2 separate regions of the Homo sapiens genome follow, and region 2 is linked to region 1. Evidence: fine-mapped expression QTL. Tissue or cell type: pancreatic islets. Region 1 holds a variant in brackets; the other region holds the start of a gene. All regions are shown on one strand. Distances are between the middles of the regions.

Region 1 (2,680 bases):
GTGAAAAAGGGGAGGGCGGAAGTGACGAGCCGTATCCCTCCGCGGGGCGAGAGGGTCGGTGGGGGGAGTCGGCGTCTCTCTCCCCCGCGCCAGCTCCCGTACACGGAGCCGCATTCCTTGGCCCCCCCACCCCCCTCCCTCGGGGCCCCCCCGCCCCCCTCGGGAAAAAAATCCACCCCGAATCACTCGAACCCGAGGGAGGCTTCCTTTCACCCTTGGGGAGACGAGCTTTCAACGGTTACCTCTTCTTCGTCTCCCCCCAAGCCCCCGTCCCCTCCCCCTGCTCCCACCCCCTTCTGGCGCCGGGTGTAAGGTCCCTTTAAGGCGACGGCGCCTTCCTCGGGTCAGACTACCGGCGGCGACGACCACAGGAGGTGAGTGAGCGAGCGAGCCTTCTCTCTCCCCACCCCCTGCTCCCGGGGGTTCCGTTATCTTTTCGCTCGGCGAGGCGTTCAGAGGCGAGACAATGAGAGGGGGATGGGGCCGGTACGCGCGGGGGTGGGGGCGGGGGGCCGGCGGTGCGCGCCCCCGCCCACCGCGAGTGGCGGCGCGGCCCGCGGCAGGGGCGGCCGCGGGGTGCGGCGCGCGAGCGCGAGTGTGTGTGCGTGCGCCCCGGGCCGCGGGAGCCGCGCGAAGGGCCGGCGGCGGAGGTCCCTGCCTGCCGGCTGGCCGGCCGCCCCCGCCCCCCGGCGCCCGCCGCGGCGCGCGCGCGCGCACTCGCGCCCCACGGCCCCGCACACAGCCCGACGTCCACACGCACGCTCGGCGCGAGGCGTCTCGGAGGAGTGGGCGGCGCGGGCGCGGGCGGTGGCCCGCTGGGGAAGGGGCGGGGGCGGGGGCGCGGGCGGTGGCGAGACGGCGGGGCGCGGCGGGAGGGGCCGGCGAGGGGGCGAGGCCGTGCGGCGGAGGGGCGGGCGGCGGCGGAGCGGCCCCTGGGGGTGGGGGTGCGCGGCCCTCCCCGCCCCATTCCCGCTCCGAGAAGGAGTGGGGCGCTCGTTTTGAGCGGGAGGAGGAAAATGAGTGATTGCTGAGCCGATCCCTTGTGTTATGTAATCTCTGCTTGGTCTAATAGTACATCCTAAGCCTTAGTGCACTGCAGCTAGTTTACGAAGTCTCCTCCCTCGGTCCCCAAATTTCTTTTGGGATGGCGCCGTGATTTATAAAATGGAATGAGGCGGGGAATCTTTATTTTCTGGTGATTATGTCCTGCCGCGGTGGGCGCCATGTTTATCCCGGGGACTATTTTATTTAGATTCTTGGCACCTTTTGCAAAGGAGTACTGTCATTGATCTATTTGTTTTCCGTCTTTCTGCGTGTTGTTCTTATTTCCTTCCTCTCCAGATGTGGGATTCTCTCAAACTGCTAGTAGCACTTGTCTTAGACATTCTTAGTTCAGAAAAAGGTAGTGCTGATGAGTCCTTAGAGTCATTTAGTGGCCAGTCTCATTTTCGAAATGGAAACTAAGATGCAGTTGGACTATCTCACAGCAGCCGCCGTCTTGATGCAAGCGGTGTAGCCCGTCCTTCCAAGCCCGTAGACACCTCTTACCGCCGCTCAAAACTCCACAGAAATGGGGTTTTACTTTTTTTTTTTT[TTTTG/G]AGACGAAGTTTCACTCTTGTCGCCCAGGCTGGTGTGCAGTGGCACGATCTCTGCTCACTGCAACCTCCGCCTGCCGGGTTCCAGTGATTCTCCTGCCTCAGCCTTCCTAGTAGCTGGGATTACAGGCATGTGCTACCACGCCCGGCTAATTTTTGTATTTTTAGTAGGGACGAGGTTTCACCATGTTGGCCAGGCTGGTCTTGAACGCCTGACCTCAGGTGATCCGCCCGCCTTGGCCTCCCAAAGTGCTGGGATTACAGGCGTCAGCCACCGCGCCCGGCCGGGTTTTACTTCTGTAGGCATTTACCCAACTAGAGGAAAGGGAAACGGAGGGGGCAGGGAGGGCTGCTCGTTGGCAAACGATTAATTTTGAGACACTATTGCTCAGGGTCTGAGAGCTTGAACTCTGAATTCGAACTGTTAGCACAATCGTTCTCAACTTCGGGGTGCATAAAAAGTAACTTGAAGGTGGTTAAACGTACAATTTGGGGGGCCTCATCCCCCAAATTTATTTGAATGGAGCAGAGGGGGGTTGTCATCTTTACATTTTCAAATGAGCAGTCCTGGGGCTGAGACTGATTAATGTAACCACTACATTGAGAATTACTGGTCTAACATAAAAGTGTTCAAGATGTTGAAACAAGTGACACCTTGTGCCGTTGATTTCCTTCCCTTTTCCAGAGCTGTGTTGGTGGTGTATCTCAAACTAAAGGAGGTAACAGAATGGACTCTTGGGACGAACCTGATTTAGTTAGAGTTTCCACTCCCATCTTGAACTAGTGGTATAATGTAGGAAAGCAGTTCTCAAAGTGTGGACAGATGACCCATGGGGATCTCCTCTTACCCTTTCAGGGTAGCCTCAAGGTCATAACTATTTTCAAAATAATAGTAAGATGCTATTTATTGTTTTCACTGATACACTGATGGTTCAAAAGCAAGGCTGGGTAAAACTACTGGCGGTACCTTAGCACAAAGCAAGTCAGGGGCACCAAACTACTTGAGAATGCCCTTGAAGCAGTAAAATTTATTATTCTATTTTTATTTTTTTGAGGCGGAGTTTTGCTCTGTCGCCCAGGGTGGA
Region 2 (2,680 bases), 350 kb before region 1:
CTAGAGGCCTCAGGGGAAAGTCCCAATCCTGAGGGACCCTCCCAAACATTTCCATGGTGCTCCAGTCCACTGATCTTGGGTCTGGGGTGATCCAAATACCACCCCAGCTCCAGCTGTCTTCTACCACTAGAAGACCCAAGAGAAGCAGAAGTCGCTCGCACTGGTCAGTCGGAAGGCAAGATCAGATCCTGGAGGACTTTCCTGGCCTGCCCGCCAGCCCTGCTCTTGTTGTGGAGAAGGAAGCAGATGTGATCACATCACCCCGTCATTGGGCACCGCTGACTCCAGCATGGAGGACACCAGGGAGCAGGGCCTGGGCCTGTTTCCCCAGCTGTGATCTTGCCCAGAACCTCTCTTGGCTTCATAAACAGCTGTGAACCCTCCCCTGAGGGATTAACAGCAATGATGGGCAGTCGTGGAGTTGGGGGGGTTGGGGGTGGGATTGTGTCCTCTAAGGGGACGGGTTCATCTGAGTAAACATAAACCCCAACTTGTGCCATTCTTTATAAAATGATTTTAAAGGCAAGAAGTGTGTGTGTCAGAGGGTGGGGGAGATTCTTAAATTAGATTACCTGCATGCCTGCTCTCCAGTCTCATTCCTGGGTCAAGACTCAGGTTTCCAGCTCAGCAATCCATCAGCATTATACAGATCCAACCCACCCTCACCCGACCCCTGCAGTTTCTCCCCAGGTGGAGCAGTCCCTCAGTGAGGACTGTGAACGAATCTTCAGGAACCCCCACTGTAGGAGCCTCAAACTGAGCCCCACGGGAGATGCTCTAGACTGAGAACTTCCCATAAATGATACCCACGGGGAACGTTTAGATTTAGAGGTTGCACAGAATTGCTCCACATCTGGGAGACCAAAAGACAGTCCTCTGGAAGGTGGCTGGCCCAAGCTCCCCAGTGGGGGAATCAGGATGTCAGAGAGATCCTCTAGAACCTGCTGTTCTTGCTATTGCATGACCCCTCCCTGGCACCAGAGCCTCCCTCCTGGCTCCCTCCCCTGTCACTTGCCAGCCTGTAGTGGTGCTTGCTGCAGCCCTCCCTGGTTGCTTTATTTATTTATTTTGCACCAACAGGGTTGCTGCAGACTCATTCTTGCCTGGTTTAAAAAGAGAGAGAGAGAGAGAGGAAAAAAAAAAAGGAGAAATGCTTTCTGGCTCTTTTCTCCACCTCAGTCTTGGCAGCAGCGGCCGCAGCAGCAACAGCAGCAGCAGCAGCGGCAGGCAGCAGCCGGGCAGCCAGGCAGCGGGGGTTGAGGCACACAGGGAAGGTGCAGGGGCCTGAGGTGCAGCTCGAATGGGACAGGGCCCCCAGCGCTGGACAGATGCAGTGCCAAACTTGATGCCACCTTCCAGCTTCTCCGGTAAGTGCCCCCACTCTCTGTCCCAAAGATGCAGCCGCCCTTTTCCATAACATTCTCCGAGACAGGCCAGACTAGGGGCCAGACAGGCCCCTCAAGGCAAGAGGGTTTGGGCCCCCACACTGCTAACAATTAATCCTGGCCCCATGGGACTTTGAGGGGGAAACTCAAATATCCCAAGTACCCCTGGGTGGAAGGGCTCCAAGGAGACCTCCCTTCCATCTCCCCAGTGCTTCCCCTTCCTCTGGAAGGGTTTTTCTCCACAATCGGTGTGGATCTTCCAGAAATCTTTCCCCCAGGAACCCTCTCCCCACACAGTTCCCATTTGTCAGTCAGGTGTGCTTTAAAGAGGATACAGGATACCCAGGTTCAAAAGTGTCTCTGGACTGCCACATAAAGACAAGAAAAAGGCTCCCTACCCTTGAGGGGTGATGCCTTCAAGGGTCATGTCTTGGTGATGTCCCCACCCCACTGAAGGGACAAAAAAGTGGTTCTGACATCTCGCTTCCTGCAAAGTGGCCGGAAGCCGGTCCTGCAGCCATGGAGGTTGGCAAGGGAAATTTGTGATTAAATTAGCCACCTTAGAAATAAAATAGGTTGCTCCAGCTCCCTCAGCCCCTGGCCCAGCGGACTCAGGGGAAACTCACAGGAGCAGGAAGGAAGAAAGCTGGGTTACATGCTTCACTGCACTTTTGCTGAATGCAGAGCGAGGATGGGCAGGAACTGCAGCAGTAGTGATGAAGAGCTAGCTGTCAGGTGGACTTCCCAGAACAAGCCTAGGGAGAACAAGGGAGGCTGGGCCATCTTTCCCGGGAGAGCTCTGGGCATGCCACAGAGACCTGTTAGGTCAGTTTGGGGCGAGAAGAGTCTGCTCTGCAGTCTTTGCCCCACGTTATTCTTTTTCATCCCCAAGCCTCACACCAGTTTTCTGCATCCCTCTGCTCTTTTGGCCTCTTTCTTTAGTTTCCCAACTAGGACAATCCTCTCAAGTGGCTGTAGGATAGCCACTAGAATGATCCTTCTAGGAGGTGGAGAGTGGGAAGGAAAGGGGAAGAAATGACCATCTCTTAAACTGCCTCTCCTAAGTTCCACATGAGAAAAAACAGGGCATGTAGTAGAAAGCTGACCCTGTAGAGCCCAGAGAGCCTGAAGCCCACAAGCCCAAAGGTGATCAGGATTGCCGCTCAGCAGAGACTCAGACGCGCTGTATCCCAGAGAGCATCCATGGGCTTTTGCTCCTATCTCTGTAGCCATCCCTTGCCAATTCCAGTACTTCCTCTGCCTTGGGGTCCCTGTTGACATCTAACAGGATGAGT

What was found. PIP is the estimated chance that this variant, and not a neighbour inherited with it, causes the effect.
Region 2: it holds the start of LINGO4, and the variant in region 1 is fine-mapped to the expression of LINGO4 in pancreatic islets (PISA, PIP 0.95).

Annotation. Positions count from the first base shown.
Region 1 is chr1:151,456,846-151,459,525 of GRCh38, reverse strand. POGZ (pogo transposable element derived with ZNF domain) reads left to right here and starts at 32. Exons shown (of 19, transcript NM_015100.4): 1 at 32-374. RefSeq lists silencers at 642-691, 882-931. The variant TTTTG/G (reference allele first, on the strand shown) is at 1,595.
Region 2 is chr1:151,803,917-151,806,596 of GRCh38, reverse strand. It overlaps LINGO4 (leucine rich repeat and Ig domain containing 4), which reads left to right and starts at 1,178. Exons shown (of 2, transcript NM_001004432.4): 1 at 1,178-1,367. RORC (RAR related orphan receptor C) reads left to right here. Exons shown (of 11, transcript NM_005060.4): 11 at 1-526.